Regions from separate parts of the Homo sapiens genome. Here region 1 is linked to region 2. The links come from fine-mapping of genetic effects on gene expression. Tissue or cell type: iPS cells. Region 2 holds a variant in brackets; the other region holds the start of a gene. All regions are shown on one strand. Distances are between the middles of the regions.

What was found. PIP is the estimated chance that this variant, and not a neighbour inherited with it, causes the effect.
Region 1: it holds the start of PRKAB2, and the variant in region 2 is fine-mapped to the expression of PRKAB2 in iPS cells (PhLiPS, PIP 0.95).

The regions. Positions count from the first base shown.
Region 1 is chr1:147,166,784-147,177,222 of GRCh38, reverse strand. It overlaps PRKAB2 (protein kinase AMP-activated non-catalytic subunit beta 2), which reads left to right and starts at 4,753. Exons shown (of 8, transcript NM_005399.5): 1 at 4,753-4,794; 2 at 5,056-5,234; 3 at 9,290-9,456; 4 at 10,284-10,377. The coding sequence starts at 5,079. It also overlaps a transcript of CHD1L not described here. RefSeq lists silencers at 4,424-4,653, 4,824-5,093.
Region 2 is chr1:147,204,220-147,214,658 of GRCh38, reverse strand. It overlaps FMO5 (flavin containing dimethylaniline monoxygenase 5), which reads left to right. Exons shown (of 9, transcript NM_001461.4): 4 at 1,189-1,351; 5 at 2,124-2,266; 6 at 5,608-5,807. It also overlaps a transcript of CHD1L not described here and the pseudogene CCT8P1. Among named protein-coding and RNA genes, the nearest start is that of FMO5, 16 kb to the left of the region's middle. The variant T/C (reference allele first, on the strand shown) is at 5,264.

The sequences.
Region 1 (10,439 bases), 37 kb after region 2:
TTTTTGTGTCTTTTTAAAGCACTTGTTTATTTTCTGGCACTATAAGATGTTTCAGACTCATCTTGTATATCCCCTGCCCCAGTCCTAGAATTAGGCATTTTTCTCAAGGGCTCTGGTTCCCTTTGTTGGAGAACAGTATTAGAAACAAAAAACTGGATGCTGGGTGTGCTCCTTGCTTCTGCTTGTCATTGCTTCTAGGCCTTCGGAGGACAGAACTTGGAAATATATGTGTGTATACTAATGTATTAAACATGAATCCACATGCATTTTTAAGTATTTCTATATTTACCCATCTGTATCTATATTAAGCTAAACATTTCATATTGATGCCTCCTACCGTAACCCAGGATTTAATGATCACATGCCTACTCCTCTCATTTTACAGATGAGAAAATTTATGGCTAAAAAGATAAAAGTACTTGCCCTACATCAAATAATTTTAGAGTTGGCAGCCTATTTGTACCAAATTAATACTCACATGGTGATGATATATACATAGTAGATTCATAGTTAATGAAGATGTTGAGATACTAATTATTCCAGTAATGTATATCTATAATTTTAGAGGAAATTTGCAGTGAATATTTAGTCACAGTATCACTATACACCATATCTATTTAGAGTTGTAGTAGTTTCCTTAGAGATTTCCAGAGCATGTGCTCCTCTAGAGCAGGGGTGGCTCAGCAAAAGCTCAACAAGTATTGGGGCCCTCAATCAAGGTTTGTTGAAATAAATGGACTATACTTATCAAGAAATACTGGCTAAATATTTAACCTGCACCTCATTTATAAAATGGAATATCATGGATCATCTGTTCTGCTTACCCTCATAGGGTGGTTCTGAGGATCACATGATAGAATTTACATGCAAATCCTTTGGAATCTGAAAGGAAAAATTATGATACTATTTGGGGAAAATTCTGTACCTTTGAATTGGGTCTATCTTCCTTTAGGTGAGCAGAATCACTATTATTTCTCTGCCTGTATAAAAACTATAAAAAGATTAAAATCAATGGTATTTGTTTAAAAATAATTAGTTTACCCAATGGTTGAGTAGTCTCTTGTGTATAAACTCATATATTTTGCTAATGCTGATTTTATTAATAGTTTTTAATTTAGGCATAATTTTCATACAATAAAAATTTACTTTTTATTGTACAGTTTGGTAAGTATCAATAACTCCACTGCAGTCAAGATACAGACCTGTTCCATACCTCCCCTTCAAAATTTCTTCATGCCCTTTTGTAGTCAATCACTCCCCACCCCCCACCCCCAAGTCCTGGCAAACACTGATCTGTTTTCTGACCGTATAGTCTTCCTTTTTCCAGAATGTCACATAAGTGGAGCCTGGCTTCTTTTACTTCCCATAATGCATTTGAGATTCATCAATATTATTGTATGTATCGAGTTATTCTTTTATTACTGAGTAGTATTCCATTTATAGCTATGCTACATTTTAATTATTGATTCACCAGATGTATTAGCCTATTTTCACACTGCTATAAAGACATACCTGAGACTAGGTAATTTATAAAGAAAAGAGGTTTAATTTACTTATAGTTCTGCATGGCTGGGGAGGACTTCAGAAACTTACAGTTATGGTAGAAGGGAAGCAAGCTCATCTTATGTGGCACAGGGGAGAGACAGTGAGTGTGTGTGAATGAAGGAAGAACTGCCAAACACTTTTAAAACCATCATCTCTGGTGAGAATTCATGCACCATCACAAGAACAGCATGGGGGAAACCGCCCCCATCATCCAATCACTTCCCTCCCTTGACACGTGAAGGTTATAGGTCCTTCCTTCAACACGTGGGTATTACAATTTGAGATGAGATTTGGGTGGGGACACAGAACCAAACCATATCACCAGGTGAAGGACATTATGTTTTTTCCATTTTAGGGTTTGTGTTTTTTCTATTATATGAATAAAGACATATATGTGTTTACAGGTTTTGTGTGAACTTGTTTTTATGTCACTCGGATAAATACCCAGGAGTGGGAATTAGTATGCTGCATGATTAAGTAAATGTTTAACTTTATAAAAAAGATCAGATTGTTTTTTGAAACAGTAACCATCAAGATCAGATGTTATACCTATCCTTGGTCATAAATGGAGGATGAAACTTGGTGAGTGGAGATGGGAATATAAACCTCCAGATGCCCAATTTAACCTGTCATCCAGTTCTGTAAAATCAATCCTTCATTCTCACATCCTCACTTCTCAGAGGAAGCGAGGTCTCTTTAGCAGTGTGTGTAAAGGCTTGCATGTGAGGCTGCCCATGTTATTTTTCTGTTTATTAGGCAGAATGATTGATCTGAGGAGACCAGTGGCAATGACATCCTAGACACAGTAACATCAGGACAACCCATTACTTTTCCTATTACCTCCTTCTTTTCCTTTCCTCTAGAAAGAAAGAAGAGCATTGGGGTGACAGCAATAAATCTAAAGGGAACAATTATACTGATACTGGTTAAGAGGATCTTGTATCTTTACTTATTCCCGAATCTAAGAAAAAAAAAAGGAATTTGGGACTAAGGAGAATTCATTCTTCCTACAGTGTCACATTACATTTGTTCTGTGTCTAAAACCTGCAATATTCAAAACTGACTTTTATTATTAACTGTTGAGTGACTTACAAATGTTGTTAGAGCAGAGCAGGGCAGAACAGTGTCATGGATAATCTTCCAAAGCAGATAATTCAAAAGTCATTTCCATTTAGCTGTGCAAAAACAGTTTATTTCTCTCCGTCAGTTTTCCATTGGTTAACGTACTTTGTTTCTGCTAGGCTGATTTGACTACTGCAAGGAAATACATACCAAGGACATATTATTTGGCATGGTGAAACCACCTTGGGGTCAGAAAACTGAATACTACACAAGTCAAGGTTTAATGTATTATGTATCTTCAAGGGCCTTGCTTCAGTGTCCTATGGTAAGGAATTGAGGGGTGGAGGGAGAAAAGTAGGGATAACCAAAAAGCATGTACTCAGACATAAAGATTTTGGAGGGGTGAGCAAGAAGTTGCAGTAAAATCGTACCTTTTTTTTTTCTTCCTGTAAACTGTCTTTGGTTTATGAGCCAAAGAATGAGTTTATAAGAGGCAGAGCAAAGAATAGGGGAGTAGTGAATTTGTTGTACTTAAGTGGGATGTCAACTTCATAATATAAAAATGAACGTTTCAGCAAATAGAGCTGCTCACTCAGAAAGGGTGGCCTATGTAACTTGGGGTTCCCCATCATTGGCCGTGTTTAAGCCTAAGTGGCATATCTGGTTAGAAATGGATTACAGTAAACAGTATTCCTGTATCCTTCATTCCGCAAATGCAAAAGCCTACTCTGTATAAGGTACATGCAGAATATGAAAAGGTATCAAATCTGGATCTGCTCTCTGCCAGCTGTCAAAGCATTGCTTCTCACACACTTTAATGTGATCTTGTTAAAATGCAGATTCAGAACCCTGGGGATGGGGCCTGATTCTGCATTTCTAACAGGCTCCCAGTTGACGCCAACACTGCTGGTCTGTGTAACACAGAGTGATAAACGTTTCTAGAAGGAGACATGCAAATACTTATAATACAAAGGTAAGTACCTTAGGGATTCCACTAATTTTCATAAAAAACCTGGATCCCTCCCAACCCTAGGGCTGTCTTTGCCCTTTTTATACCTTTAGTGTTCCTTCTGATGTTTTCGTTGTTGCTATCTTCCTTGAATTTTATTTCTTCTGAGGTTTCTCACTGTGTATGCTGTTTCTTAGCCTAGGAGAGCCTTTTCGTTCTTCTCCTAAGACTAACATTTTACTAATTTGTCAAGGAGCTAGAGCTCCTAAACACGCCATCTTGAATTCTTCCCTGCGACCCCAGTCGGGCTGAAAGCTCCTTCCTTGTCGCTCCCCACTGAACAGATTTTTCTTGGGGCGGGGAGAGGGGGACGGAGTATCGCTGAGTCGCCAGGCTGGAGTGCAATGGCGCGATCTCGGCTCACCGCAACCTCCGCCTCCCGGGTTCAAGCGATTCTTCTGCCTCATCCTCCCAAGTAGCTGGGACTTCCGGCGCGCGCCACCACGCCCAGCTAATTTTTGTATTTTTAGTAGAGCCGGGGTTTCACCTTGTTGGCCAGGATGGTCTTGATCTCCTGACTTCGTGATCTGCTCGCCTCAGCCTCCCAAAGTGCTGGGAATACAGGCGTGAGCCACTGCGCCCGGTCAGAACAGTTTTAACCTCCAGCAATGACCACTGCTTCCTTCTGCCTGCAGTTGGAAGTCAGTTTCAGTTTTCTTATTCCCTATAAGGAACCCACCTCTCCGGTCGCCTAACACACAGATGCTGCCCAGAAAACGTGCTGGCGCACCTGAGGCGGGGTAGAAAGCCGTGCCGCTCCTCCCGGCACCGAGCACCGGAGCCCAGGGAGGCGGCCTCCGAGTGTCATTTGGGGACGTCCCTTCTGCCGGGTAGTCTCAGAGGCCAAGCGCTCCTATTATCCCGGGCGCAGTCTCCCCAGGCGGGACAGGCCCTGCCTGGCGCCCCCTCCTGGCGCTGGAGGCTGCGTGCGACTGCCCACCATCGAGGCGGCGGCGGCGGCGGCTAGAGAGGCCGGCGGGTCCCGGGCGCCGAGGCTGCAGGCCGCAGGGAACGCGCACTGGGCGGACTCCGCGCCGCCGGCCTTGTAGCCATTTTAGGAGGAATCGCTGGTCGCCAGCGAGGGGTGCGGCTTCAATTTCAATAACTTTATTGGTGGCCTGATCTGCAGAACAGCCATCACATCAGTGGCCCTTGGAGGAGGGAGCGCATCGCCCGAGGTGACTGGAGTGGGGGCGCCCCTGGCAGTGAGCGCGGGGACGCGGGGGAGGTCCCGATAGCGGGTTTCCTGAGCTAGGGCCAGTGAGGGCACCGGGGTATTTGCAGGCGTTCCCGCAGGCCAGGAGGGAGAGGGCTCCAGGGCTCGGCTTCCCTGGGGCGGGGAATCCCTTGCCCTGTCCCGAGGCGCAGGGGCGGGGCCGGGGGGCGCCCCTGACGCGGCGGCTGAGGTGTTCCCAGCCCGGTGTCGTTCCCCGCGGTAGGTGGTCCCCGACGAGCTGCAGCCATGGGAAACACCACCAGCGACCGGGTGTCCGGGGAGCGCCACGGCGCCAAGGCTGCACGCTCCGAGGGCGCAGGCGGCCATGCCCCGGGGAAGGAGCACAAGATCATGGTGGGGAGTACGGACGACCCCAGCGTGTTCAGCCTCCCTGACTCCAAGGTAAGCGTCCCATGCCCGCAGTTGGTGTCAGTACTGCAGCGGGTTGATTTCTGGGCTCCTCTTCCCTTTCTTGGTTCTTTTCTACCGCGCCGAACCGGGCTATGGTTTTTTGAATTAAAGGGATTTATCGGGGACAGAGGTGTTGGATGATAATTCCTCTTGAAGTGCCGCCTCAAAATAGGATAAAGAGGCGGAGTTCTTGCTTTCCTGGTGTTCTGACTAATCTGTTGGCCACATTTTTAGGATGGGGACAATAGACATCCCCCCATCCCCGATCCTCCGAGCACGAATGGCTCTCTTCCATAGCGTTGCTGAATTTGTAGTTTGTAATCCCTGGTGGACAACTTCAGAGGGTAGGTTGCACGAGTTGCTGACCATAGGTGGTAGTTTCTCACCTTTGCCCTGAGGTGGCTAAATGAAATTCTTTTTCTGAAAATTTCTATGTATCAGTATCATTTTTGCTCTTCTAGCAGCTCTACAGTTGTGATCCTCTTCCCTTTTGGCACGGCTGTAAGCAGCAACTACTTGCTTATTGAATACTTTCTCCTAGTCTTGGGGATCAATTAAGGACATCATTTAGTTGACTGCTTAATTTTTGTCCCATACTTTATAGTTGTGGTGGCTGAGGCTGTGCCTCTTTCACGCCCCGCTGCTGCTCCGTAGGTGGAAGAGCCAATGATTCCACGACTTGTTTACTCCTCAGTAGTACTTCAAAATGTTGCGTGGCTAAAAAAACGACAACCCACAGCTGCCCTGAAGACCTTGCTCTCAATTCCAAGGACTTTCAGGAAGAGAACAACTTGTTTTCACTCTGTAAGAAAGGACAGATGGAGCTGATAGCAGCGATTACCATTCTAATGTTTCTAATGGCTTTCAGAGCTGTCAGCATGAAATACAAGTAATTCCTCCAGGTAGACTGACTGGATGAGATAGAAAAATGGAGGGCTTGAGGAGATTCGGGTGTGTTTGATGTTTCCTATCATTTCATCACTTCCCAGGGAACTGGGGCTTTAGAGAGTGAATAGAGTATTGTTTGCCATATTGGTAGCACATGGAATTTGGATTCCATGATTTATTTCTTTGGATCTCAATTGATAACATCATCACAGCCTGGCGCAGAGGCTCACGCCTGTAATCCCAGCACTTTGGGAGGCCGAGGCGGTTGGATCATTTGAGGTCAGGTGTTCGAGACCAGCCTGACCAACATGGTGAAACCCCGTCTCTACTAAAAATACAGAAAAAGTAGCCGGGCATGCTGGTGCATGCCTGTAGTCCCAGCTACTCGGGAGGCTGAGGCAGGAGAATCGCTTGAACCCGGGAGGCGGTGGTTGCAGTGAGTTTAGATCAAACCACTGCACTCCAGCCTGGGTGACAGACTCTCAAAACAAAAAAACAAAAAAACAAAAAAACCAACCATAATCACAGAGAAGTGAGAGTGATTAAAAGGAGCACTTATTGGGGTTTATTCTCCAATTCTCCATTCTTATTTGGGCTATCTACAAGCCATCTGAATTTACTTCTTCAAAGCTTTCGAAAGGTGATCCGCCTCATTATATTTTTACCCTTTTCCTATGTTGATGACTCAGGATTTAAATACAGTGTATTTGTCGAACTGTGACTGCAGTAATTGGTGTCCTGATTAAAAGCCAGGTTGCTCTGTCTGAATTGGGGCCTATTTTGTATTATTCTTATCTCTCACCTCAGTCTTGGCATTTGTGAATTAAGAAAATTATTCATATAATTTTCAGATTGTCTGAAAATCAGATAATTCCTAAGGTCTCATTTAAGTCTAAAATTTTATAGTTCTCAATGTAGCCTCTTTACTTCTAAACTCAACATTTTACTTAAACATCAAACTGTAGTTCTGATTGTCGTTTTGCCTCTTTTCCTGGTAGTTTTGCTGAGTAACTTGGAGTAAACAATCTTTCTGCTAGTCAGTTGCATTCATTCCTACTACAGAAATGTCATGTCATAAGTGGAAGGGCTTTCCTCCAAAGCTAGGCATATTAATAGTTTGTAGCTTTCAAATTCTAAACTGAAAATCCTGTCATAAAAGTAACTGACAGAAACAGTGGCAGGGGGGCCTACTTTGCTTTGAATGCCTGCCTTTTTCAGTGGACTAGTTCAGTGGTTCTCAATCCTGTTTGCACATTAGAATCACCTCAGATTTCTTTAAATAGTTTTTGGAAAATTTGAAACACTTTCAAAGTAGGGGGAAACAGTATAATGACATCTATATACATGCCACCCAGTTTGAACAATGATCATATCTTGAATGAACATATAACATCTATACCCCAGTCCACTATTCTCCCACTAGTTATTTTGAAGCAAATTCCCAGATATTATATCAAGTATTATTTTATCTGTAACATTTTAGGATGTACCTCTAAAGATGAGGGTTTTTTCTTTGTTATTTTAACATAATCACGGTATATCTGGGAAGCTTTTTTTCCTTTATTTTAACATAATCACAGTGTTATCTAGAAAGCTTTTTAAAAATAGGTTCCCAGATCTTACATCCGAATCTGAGGGTTATTCTTAGGCATATGTCAAATTCTTGTAATTCTAACGCAGCCAGTTAGTCAAGAGTGCATTGTTCTGAGAATATGTAGTTTTCTCTTAAGTCAATTCCTTATGTGAAAGTCCTTTCAATTCTCTTTCTCTATTTACTTTGGATTATCCTGCTACTGATATGCTATACTGTAGTTTTGAGGAATATCAAGAGAATGTATGGAGGGAAGCTATGTCAACCATTTTGAAAAGAAAGCCCAAATGAATAAGCTAGTCCTTTTTTTAAAAAAAAACCCACATTATTCAATTTAGTAATATTTAGGCTTAATACTATACAGTCTTATTTACCAAAGTCACTTAAACCAGTCTAAAATAGGGGTCAGCAATCTTTCTGTAAAGGGCCAGATAGTAAATAGTTTAGACTTTGTAGACCATACAGTCTCTGTTATAGCTACGCAATTCTGCCACTGTAGCCTGTAAGCAGCTATAGACAATATAGGTAAGCAAGGCAGGTATGTTGGTTCACACCTCTAGTCTCAGCTTCTCTGGAAGCTGAGGTGGGAAGATGGCTTGAGCCCAGGAGTTCGAGGCTGCAGTGAGCTATGATTACACCACTCACTGCATTCCAGCCTGGGTGACAGAGCAAGGTCCTTTCTCAATCAATCAATCAGTAAAATAATAGGTAAACAAATGGGCAGAGCTGTTTTCAAATAACACTTGATAAAAGCATCTGGCTTACTGGCTGTCTGCCAACTCTTGGTCCAAAGGATAGTAATGAAAAGAAACAGGAGTTACTGTTTTTACAATCCCATAAACCTCATTTGATAAGAGAGCTACTTTTGATAAAGGAAATTGTATTTTTGATCTCTTGCTTCTTGAGGTTCTAGAATTTTTATTCCTACTCCTGAAATAATTAGTATAAGCCTGGGATAGGGGAATAAGTAAGATTTCATAGCCACTTCTCAAGTTTTAAGAAATCAGTGATCTAGTTTTTGAATTTTTAATGTTTCTTCTTTTTACTTCTTAGCTGAAATACAGTTTATGAATTACTTATGAATTTTGATATCTCTGACTTCCATTACAACTGGTAATTGAGAGCTATTCATATTTGCCTATAAAAATATATGGCTGACTTAATTATCTTTTACAGAACCATACTTTGTTTTCATTTTTTTTTCCTCTGAAGAAAGACTCAGAAGCATATCATAATTGCCTGCCTATGAGTTAAACTAGTGGTAGGGAGTTATTTTTTTCTTTTTTTTTTAAGGGAGAGTCTAAGGCTCTGGAAGGGTAAGTGACACAGGTAGACTCAAAAGTTAGGCTATGATTTAGGCAGTGCTTGAGCATAGGCCATTTGACCATTTTTGGTCCTAGATGAGTTCTTTTTCTATAATTTGTTCAAACTCTGATTTAGTTGCTAATTTTGGGGTTTATATCCTTAGCCAAAGCCTAGCACCCTTCTCTATCCTAGGGAGGAGAGTGACCTTTTTAGAATTCTTGGGTCACAGTTTATTCTAGGGATGACCTACTCCTTCTTACAGCTCCCTGGGGACAAAGAGTTTGTATCATGGCAGCAGGATTTGGAGGACTCCGTAAAGCCCACACAGCAGGCCCGGCCCACTGTTATCCGCTGGTCTGAAGGAGGCAAGGAGGTCTTCATCTCTGGGTCCTTCAACAATTGGAGCACCAAGATTCCACTGATTAAGAGGTGACAAGTGTCTTGGTTGAATCTAAGGGTCCAGGAATAGAGACCTGATTTCTTTTCTCAGAAGAGAGACCCAGCTGGACTTTTCTCCACCTACTAAGGACTGTCTCTAGAACATGCCCTTTTCTGCGGCCACTTAGTATATCTGTGGGATTTTTTTTTAACCTCATAGTGAGTCAGAGATGTTTTACCCTTTAGAATTTCATTGCCTCAGAGGGATTCATAATAGCTTTATGGCTACATTCTTTAGGACTATGTCATACAAGTCCTGTCTATGCTTGTGGGAAGTCTTTTGTAACTGTCTGAGTCTTGTTGCTCTGACTTCTGCACTAAAGCAAAACACATTTTGAATTTTTAGGTAGTCATGTTATTTGTTGCTTCCAAAGCAATAATGAGTGATTTAACTGGTTGTCAGAATGGCCCTTTGTATGGTAGTTCATTCTCTAGAAAAGGTTCACCAAAACAGGGAAAGAGTACCTTGAGGCACTTCTGTATCCTAAACCTACCTATCTTATTTGCACTGGTGAGGAACTTGTTCTACTGAAGCAAAGTAAGTTATACTAAGGTGAACCATTTGAGGGGATTAATGTTTTTATTATTCTTTTCCAGATATTGGTTAAGAACTAACGTTGTTGGGAGGAGCTGGTAAATACATGTCCAAGATGATACAGAAAAGGAGAATGGGTTTATACGTTGTTTTTTACACCAGGGGATACAATGGCTTAGGAATCTGGGAAATTATTCATATGATACTATGATTGCCACTTGTTTTTTAGATTCAGTCTTCTAAAAGGAACTTGGCCTGTTTGCCTTTCTTTTTTCTTCTGTAGCCATAATGACTTTGTTGCCATCCTGGACCTCCCTGAGGGAGAGCACCAATACAAGTTCTTTGTGGATGGACAGTGGGTTCATGATCCATCAGAGGTAAGGCCTTGATCTCCAAGGGTAACCATTGACTTAGCAGTCTCATTTTAGCTGTCATTTCT
Region 2 (10,439 bases):
GAAGTTTTCTTAAAGAAGATAAAGTTTTCTTAAAGCTGAGTCTTGAAGGATGAGTAGGAGTCTACCAAATAAGGAATAAAAGGGTGATCTCGGCAGAGGCACCAGCCTGTGTAAAAGAACATGATAGAGGAACTATAAATAGTGCTGGATTGCTAGTGCATGCAGGGGTGGTTTGTCTCTCTTTTTTTTTTTGTTTTTTGTTTTTTTTCAGACAGAGTCTTGCTCTGTTGCCCAGGCTGGAGTACAGTGACACGATCTCGGCTCACTGCAACCTCCACCTCCCAAGTTCAAGCAATTCTCCCGCCTCAGCCTCCCGAGTAGCTGGGATTACAAGCATGTGCCACCACACCCACTAATTTTTGTATTTGTAGTAGAGACGGGGTTTCGCCATGTTGGCCAGGTGAGTTTTGAACTCCTGACCTCGGGTGATTCACCTGGCTCAGCCTCCCAAAGTGCTGGGATTACATGCGTGAGCCACCGCACCCGGCCGGGATGGTGTCTCTATTAGTCCATGAAGACATTATGGTCATGGGCCCGTAGAAGCACATAGTGTTTCCTTAACCTAAGTAGGGTAACCCATATTTATTATTTTTTATAAAGCTAAAAATCATAACACTATCCTGTTTCACAGCCTCTTTCTTTATAGTTCTTTGTAAAATGGGTATTTATGGGAGCCAAAGGGAGATTCATTTATATAAAATGAGAGCCACTGAGGTGTTTTTCTACCCTACCAGGAAAAGGAGCCCTATAGCTCAGTCACTTATTTAAAGGTAGCCAGGAGAAGAGAACCTAGGGTAAGAAGACATCAGAAGGTCTCAGGACATATAGGGGTCAGGAGAAGAATAGGCATTTAGTGCATGGAGTGTCATAAAAGCACAGGAGAAGCCCAGGCTTTACTCAGGTGTTACAGTGCCTTAGGACCTGGACCAAGAGACCTGGTGACTTGCACTTTTCTAGAAGAGGAGGGTACATTAGCCTGCCAACACTATGTTATTTTTTTCTGTCTTGTGGAAATTTTCTCATTCTGACTACAGCCCCAAACAGTTCTTATTTGTGGAGTATGAAAATCAAATATCCCTGCATGGGTCCTATTATGTGATAGTGTCTGTGATATCAGCCCTTTGTGTAACACTATGCAAGGAGAGTCATGTCAGGGATGTCCCCTGTGGTTATCACTTTTCTTTTCAGACCACTGTGTGCAGTGTGAAGAAGCAGCCTGATTTTGCCACTTCAGGCCAATGGGAAGTGGTCACTGAATCTGAAGGGAAAAAGGAGATGAATGTCTTTGATGGAGTCATGGTTTGCACTGGCCATCACACCAATGCTCATCTACCTCTGGAAAGCTTCCCTGGTGAGCAGCTTACCAGGAAGGAAGACCCTTGACCCATGCCTGTGACCTGACCCCTGAGGAATGGGAGGATTGTGGTCTGAGTAATTCCTACTTTGGAATGAAGTAAGACTTATCCTAATTATTCTTGTTCCCCAGAAGGATGTTGGGGTAACTTGTATTACTGCCATTTTTGTAATTTTGGAGATTAGAGCAAAATTTGCAGTCTATTTAGTTTTACAATGACTTTAGTCATTGTATCAAATGACTGGAGTATCAAAGGGAAGAATGTGGAGTTCTTGAGGAGCATTAGGTAGAATAAGGAATTTTTCAGCAGTAAACACAAATATTGAGTTTCTAAGGAAGGAATGAAAGCTTGAAGAATTTCAGTCTTTGGCCTGGATTTTCATTTTAAAAAAAAAAGCACTCTATACTCTAAAGTATATAAGAATATATGTGCTGTAAGTGAAATGCGAGTAGGTATTTAAGGGGATGAAAAGATAAAAGAGAATGGAGGTTTTCTGAGGCAGTTTATATTTATATCTCTAAATCCAAAATACAAACACATCCTGAGTTAAGCAAAGTACATATGACAAGGAAATCACAAGGTACTACTCTGAGGCTATGGGAAAAGAAAATAGGCAAAAATACTGAGAAAGGCAAGAAAGTAGCTGAGTAAAGAGAACACTTGGAGAATATATGCTTAAACTTAAGTCTGCAAAAAAAACAAATGACTTGACAAATGATATCTATCATGTAAACCATTACCCAATAATTATTTTCCCTTCTCTTGCAGGAATTGAGAAGTTCAAAGGGCAGTACTTCCACAGTCGAGACTATAAGAACCCAGAGGGATTCACTGGAAAGAGAGTCATTATAATTGGCATTGGGAATTCTGGAGGGGATCTGGCTGTAGAGATTAGCCAAACAGCCAAGCAGGTTTGAATCACTCAATTATTATTTACGTTGCTTAACTCTAGCTTCAGTTTCTCCAAGGAAGCTGCAGGTGGACCCAACAGAGAATAGGGATACCTGCACATAGCCCTTCAGTGCCAGTGGCAAATATAGGGCTTCGTTTCATTACCTCAGTTGGCAACATGGTGATTGGTGCTAATAGAGGAGTTAAGGCTACCAGTTAGAGTTCCATTGTGCAACTAGCCTCACACCAAGGAACTGGATCAGCTAAAGTCTGGGCTCATTATCCTAATCAGGCATCTTCTCAGAGTGTGCCTCTGGCTTTGATAAAGACAAAGTAATTGCTGGGAGAGGTTGTTAGAAAGCAGTATTGAGAGCGAGGATCTTCAATTGGCCAGCAGAAGTGCTATGTTCTTACATAAAGGAAAGCACGCGTGATCATTGGAAACTTTTCACTCATAGGATGGTGCTTGAATTTTCCTTTACACTCCCCAAATGGAAAAAAGTATCAATTTTATCTTCCCAAAGACAATGTGGGTATCCGTATAGCGTCCAAACTGTAGCACATGCAAGCAGCTTGCCCTGGCCTTTGCATACAGTTAGGTAACTCAGATAACATTCATTCTAAAGCAATTATATCTCCTTGGCTTTTTGTTTTGTTTGTTTTGGTTTTTGTATAGCAGACTTTGAACTGAGAAGCAAGTGTCTTCACTATAAATTCCTGGAAAAAGACATGCCAATATTGTATTTTGTTATTAATGTCTGTGTTGAATCAAACTCTATTGGCAATAGGTAAATGTCTTGGTTGTTCTTTAGTAACTTTAATTAAGCCATGCTTCTCTATAAAGATGTTTTAAATTGTTTTATTTTAATTAGAAGCTTAGTGCTACAATTCTGTTAAATGACTCTTACTCAGCAACTTTGTTTGAAAAACACTTCTTCTCATTGCTATCCTCATCTATAACCACAAAAATTATTTCATATGATACTTCATAAATTAATTCAACAGACATTTATCAGGAAATAATCATATAAACAAGGATTAAAAATAATTAAAATAATTATATAAACAAGGGTTAAAACGTATGTGGGTGTTATGGTAGAGGAATGTGCAAAATGTGGAGTGGGGACCCATGGCGAGAGCCATCTTTAATATCATTGGCTTGTCAAATGGGCAGTTCTAAGGGAGCTTGGCCTTACCTGCTCTGGGGAATTGCAGGTTGCCACATAACAAAGCATTTCTGTGTGGGTACAGATAAGGTGGCTGTGTCTGTGAGAAAGCCTGGGAAAATGCAAAGGAAAACTATGTCTGCATAGCAGAGGCAATACTGTCACACCACTAATCCAAGCTGAAGAAACTCAATTGCTGAGTTCTAACTTTTTACTTTACTTGTAAATTGTATTCATGATGATTTGTTTATAAATCAAAAACTTTAAATGGACCTATATATTTCAGTATATCATGGAAGTTTTTCGTATAATTCTTGTAGATGCTTTTGTAAAGAGAAAACATTCCTTTTTTTCAATATTAATTTCATATAAGATTACACTGATTAAACAATTTTCCTTATAAATCTGATTTGTAAATGTTATTTGCTTAAAACAAGGTATAGATGGAAAACTGAAATAAGAAATATGACAGCCATTAAGCACTTATCAAGTGTTTACTATATACCACACCTTTTACAAAAACACTGCTTAATTATCACAACAGCCTTGTGATATATGTATTATTATTATTACTATTTCATAAATAGGAAATCTTTTCATTAGGGCTCTGAGCGTTTTCATTACTCAGCAGAAGTTATATAGCCAGCACACAAAATTGTTCAGTTTCTAAGACCATATATGCTCTTTCAACTGTGACTGTGGAAGTACATAATTATCAGAGTGCTTACAGTCACTTTAGGCGAGATAAGATTTGTGAAGTAAACAATTATCCCTCTGTAGACAGGTCATTTTAGACAAAAAGACTATGAAGCAATGTGCGTATATAACTTAAAATCTGGAAGCCATCTCCAGAGAGTTTCATAGTGTAGGAAAAGTGATTCTTTTGCCAGGTAACTGCATATCAAATCTTTATCAGTTCTGAACATGAACTTTAGCCAGAGGAGGACACAGAAAGACTGACTAGCTTCCTGTTGTTCCACTAGCAATCTTATTTTTCTCCATTAAATAATCAATCAAACATTTCTTAAGCACAGGCTTTGGAGTTAGTCAGACCTGGGTTGGAAATTCACCTCTGCCACTTACTAGCTCTGTGATCTCAGGCAAGTTATTCATCCTTTCCATGCCCCTCATCTATAACATGGGTGTAATAATACTTTCCTCAAGAGGTTGTTGTAATATAGATGAAGGACCTAGCACAATGACTTAAAGGTCACAAATCCCAATAAATGGAAGTGATGATAATCTGCTGTGGATGTGTAGGCTTTATCTCCTATCCTTGAGAAAACACATTTGAAGAGACAGAAATTAGGAGTGTAGAAAGTTTAATATCAATAAAAATGATAAATAGCAGGGGTTTTTGTAATAATGCCAACAATGTCAATGGCAAAAGAATGAGGGTTTTAGATTAAATGGTCTCCAGCTGCTTTCAACTTTACCAGTACATGATTTTTAATGAGTTCTACAGGTGATAAGTGCTAGAGAAATTCAGAGGATGGAGAGAAAATTGTCAGCCTGAATAGTCAGCGGTTTCTTCATGGAGGAGGCAGTCTTGATCTGGGTCTTAAAAATGAACAGGCTTCGCAGAGTTAAGAGGAAAGAAGGCATTTCAGGCAGGCATAATAGCACTAAACAGAAATACAACGGTGTATTAGAGCAAAACATATTCTTGGACAGTAGATACACCAATTTAATTCTAAGTTTAGTGTTTGGGAAGGAAAATGGCAGGAAACAAACATAAAAACCCACAAAGATTGTGCAGGGGCTAAAAAGCCAGACTAATGAGTTTGAACTCTTTTTTTTTTTTTTTTTGAGACGGAGTCTCACTCTGTTGCCCAGGCTGGAGTGCAGTGG[T/C]GCGATCTTGGCTCACTGCAAGCTCCGCCTCCCAGGTTGACGCCATTCTCCTGCCTCAGCCTCCCGAGTAGCTGGGACTACAGGCACCTGCAACCACGCCTGGCTAATTTTTTGTATTTTTAGTAGAGACGGGGTTTTTCAGTAGAGACGGGGTTTCACTGTGTTAGCCAGGATGGTCTCGATCTCCTGACCTCGTGATCCGCCCGCCTTGGCCTCCCAAAGTGCTGGGATTACAGGCGTGAGCCACCGCGCCGGGCCTGAAATGATTCTTGAAGAAAATGGGGGTGCTTTTGAAGGTTTACGAATCTGAGTGACAAAAGCAAACAATTTCTTCCATGCCCCAGGTTTTCCTCAGCACCAGGAGAGGGGCTTGGATCCTGAATCGTGTAGGGGACTACGGATATCCTGCTGATGTGTTGTTCTCTTCTCGACTTACACATTTTATATGGAAGATCTGTGGCCAATCATTAGCAAACAAATATTTGGAAAAAAAGATAAACCAAAGGTTTGACCATGAAATGTTTGGCCTGAAGCCTAAACACAGGTATGTTCCCAGGATGGGAGTGCAGGGATAGTGGCCAAAGCACAAGAATAAGGACTCTTCACACTGGCTAATAGTAAAGCCACCTCTACCCATACATTAAGAAAACCCACAGTGGCTGGGCATGGTGGCTCACGCCTGTAATCCCAGCACTCTGGGAGGCGGAGGCGGGTGGATCACCTGAGCTCAGGAGTTTGAGACCATCCTGGCCAACACGGTGAAACCCCATCTCTACTAAAAACACAAAATTAGCCAGGTGTGGTGGCACCTGTCTGTAGTCCCAGCTATTCAGGAGGCTGAGGCAGGAGAATCACCTGAGCCCTGGAGGCAGAGGTTGCAGTGAGCTGAGATTGCACCACTGCACTCCAGCCTGGGCAACAGACTCTGTCTCAAAAAGAAAAAAAAAAAAAGAAAAGAAAAGAAAAGAAAGCCTATAGACTCATAGAATCTGAAATCAGATTTCTAACTTGTACCCACAGATGTCCAAGATCTATTGGTCTGTGGGTTTTTAATCTAGAATTCTCTTTGGCAGTAACCCTTTTCTCATTCCCCCAGGTATCAGTTCTTTTTGCATGATACCCAACAACAAAATGATAGCTGAGGACAGTGCGTCATTTACTCATTGAGTACCTGTTATGAGCCAGGCATCATACATGGGCATGAAATACAGAGAGAAGACATAATAGTAATAGTAATAGAAATAACACTCACCTTTCTGAGGACTTTCTATAAGATAAGCACAGTGCTAAATGAGTTACATGCAGTATCTCACTTAATCCTGACAATAGCCCTATAAGTTGGTACTATTTTTGTTTCACAGTGAGGAGGTCTATGCAAACCTACCCCAAAGGCTGAGGAAGCTGAGAGGCTGAAGAAAGAAGCTGACAGATTCAGTTTCTTAGAAACATTTCATAGGGACTTATGAACAGAAGCCATGTCTGTCTCAGGCAGTGGTGAGACAAGATGGTAGATCCCCATACCATTACCTCCTGACCCAGGGATGATATACCACAGGGGAGGGGCACACATACTTCAGAGCGAATGGGTAGGAGTTTGCCCTAAGGGTGGGATTTACAGTAAGTACATACTATTAAACAACAGATTAACTGGAAATCTCAGAGGTATTCCCGGAACCAGGGTTGATCAGAAGTCAATATGGTAGATTAACTTCTAAGATGGAGTTGCTTTGGCCTCCACAATTTTTGATCTACATTTTACAAATATAAAAACTGAGATGTAGAGAAACTAAGTAATTTTCCCGAGGGCAACAGAAATAATAAATGGCAGACTCAAAAAATAGATCTTACCTTAAATACTCTAATGAGAAGAAAGAGGACAGATTATAATGAAGAAATACATACAGTGTTATGAAAGTACAAAGGATGGGGTCCTCAGAGAACCAGGGAGGGAAAACATTTCTAGAGGCTGATTTTAAATTTATTTTCCCTCCAACTTTTTATTTTTGAAAATGTTCAGATCTACAGAAAAGTTGCAAAATAATAAGTACAATGAGCACCCATATATCCTTCACCTGGATTCACCTGTTAAGTTTGCTATATTTGCTTCCTTTCCCCATCTCTGTAGATAGGTCCATACATATAGAGCATACATACACAAGTACATTTTTTTCTGAAACCATTTGAGTACGTTGCAGTCATTAAGACACTTTAAATACTTCAGTGTATATTGTATAAGAAAAAGGGCATTCTCCTACATAACCATCATATAATTATCACACGTGGGAAATTTAACATTGATAAAATACATTAATACATTGGCAATATCCCCAGTTGCCCTAATAGTATTTTTTATAGCTTTAAAAAAATCTTTTTAAATCTAGTATCCTGTCAGGTAATCAATCACACCATTACATTTAGTTGTCATGTCTCTTTAATCTCTCTTTTTATATATATATATTTTTATTATACTTTAAGTTCTAGGGTACATGTGCACAACGTGCAGGTTTGTTATATATGTATATATGTGCCATGTTGGTGTGCTGCACCCATTAACTTGTCATTTACATCCATTAACTTGTCATTTACATCAGATATATCTCCTAATGCTATGCTTCCCCACTCTTCCCACCCCACAACAGGCCCTGGTGTGTGATGTTCCCCTTCCTGTGTCCAAGTGTTCTCATTGTTCAGTTCCCACCTATGAGTGAGAACATGCAGTGTTTGGTTTTTTGTCCTTGCGATAGTTTGCTGAGAATGATGGTTTCTAGCTTCATCCATGTCTCTACAAAGGACATGAACTCATCATTTTTTATGGCTGCATAGTATTCCATGGTGTATATGTGCCACATTTTCTTAATCCAGTCTATCATTGTTGGACATTTGGGTTGGTTCCAAGTCCTTGCTATTGTGAATAGTGCCGCAATAAACATACGTGTGCATGTGTCTTTATAGCATCATGATTTATAATCCTTTGGGTATATACCCAGTAATGGGATGGTTGGGTCAAATGGTATTTCTAGTTCTTTTTGAGGAATCGCCACACTGTCTTCCACAATGGTTGAACTAGTTTACAGTCCCACCAACAGTGTAAAAGTGTTCCTATTTCTCCACATCCTCTCCAGCACCTGTTGTTTCCTGACTTTTTAATGATCGCCATTCTAACTGGTGTGAGATGGTAACTCATTGTGGTTTTGATTTGCATTTCTCTGATGGCCAGTGATGATGAGCATTTTTTCATGTGTCTGTTGGCTGCATAAATGTCTTCTTTTGAGAAGTGTCTGTTCATATCCTTCACCCACTTTTTGATGGGGTTGTTTGTTTTTTTCTTGTAAATTTGTATGAGTTCTTTGTAGATTCTGGATATTAGCCCTTTGTCAGATGAGTAGATTGCAAAAATTTTCTCCCATTTTATAGGTTGCCTGTTCACTTTGATGGTAGTTTCTTTTGCTGTGCAGAAGCTCTTTAGTTTAATTAGATCCCATTTGTCAATTTTGGCTTTTGTTGCCATGGCTTTTGGTGTTTTAGACATGAAGTCCTTGCCCATGCCTATGTCCTGAATGGTATTGCCTAGGTTTTCTTCTAGGGTTTTTATGGTTTTAGGTCTAACATTTAAGTCTTTAATCCATTTTGAATTAATTTTTGTATAAGGTGTAAGGAAGGGATCAAGTTTCAGCTTTGTACATATGGCTAGCCAGTTTTCCCAGCACCATTTGTTAAATAGGGAATCCTTTCCCCATTTCTTGTTTTTGTCAGGTTTGTCAAAGATCAAATAGTTGTAGATATGTGGTATTATTTCTGAGGGCTCTGTTCTGTTCCATTGGTCTATATAAGAAATAATTCTCTCTTTGACATGGGCTTTCTTTTTAAGAACCCAAGGCATTGTTTTGTAGAGAGTCTCTAAATTTAGACTTGCATAATTTTTTTCCTTTATTATATTCAGGTTAAATGTTTTTGACACATATACTACATAGGACATGTTGATCTTAGTGGGTCACATCAAGAACCACATTATGTCAGTTTATCTCACAGTAATAATGCTAAATTTGACCACTTAGATAAGGTGGTATAGATACCATCAAGTTTCTCCACTATAAAGATATTTTTTCCCGTTGAAGTTAATCAGTGGGGTGACATTTGGAAACTGTGTTTCCTAAAAACCTTTCACCTAATTATTTTAGCATGCATGTTTTTGGTGGTTGCAAAATAAATTGAGGCTTTGTTGAATAATAGGAGATAGCCAAACAAATAGAGCAAGGGTATAGCATTCTAATTATAAAGACAAAGTCTTGGAACAGCAAAAAATACATTATGCTCCAGGACTTGCATGTAGTCTGGTATGGCTGGACTATATAGCAAAGATGGAAGAGTGACTGAATGTATCTCCAGGTTCATCAGGCATGAAAACCTTTGGTTCCTCCGCGGTCTTCTGAGCGGTCACGTGAACGGCTTCCTGCAGGCTGGCCATGGCGCTTCAAGTTCCCAAGGCTCCGGGCTTCGCCCAGATGCTCAAGGAGGGAGCGAAACACTTTTCAGAATTAGAAGAGGCTGTGTATAGAAACATACAAGCTTGCAAGGAGCTTGCCCAAACCACTCGTACAGCATATGGACGAAATGGAATGAAAAAAATGGTTATCAACCACTTGGAGAAGTTGTTTGTGACAAATGATGCAGCGACTATTTTAAGAGAACTAGAAGTACAGCATCCTGCTGCAAAAATGACTGTAATGGCTTCTCATATGCAAGAGCAAGAAGTTGGAGATGGCACAAACATTGTTCTGGTATTTGCCGGAGCTCTCCTGGAATTAGCTGAAGAACTTCTGAGGATTGGCCTGTCAGTTTCAGAGGTCATAGAAGGTTATGAAATAGCTTGCAGAAAAGCTCATGAGATTCTTCCTAATTTGGTACGTTGTTCTGCAAAAAACCTTCGAGATGTTGATGAAGTCTCATCTCTACTTCGTACCTCTGTAATGTGTAAACAATATGGTAATGAAGTATTTCTGGCCAAGCTTATTGTTCAGGCATGCGTATCTATTTTTCCTGATTCTGGCCATTTCAAAGTTGATAACATCAGAGTTTGTAAAATTCTGGGCTGTGGTATCACTTCCTCTTCAGTATTGCATGGCATGGTTTTTAAGAAGGAAACAGAAGGTGATGTACATCTGTCAAAGATGCAAAA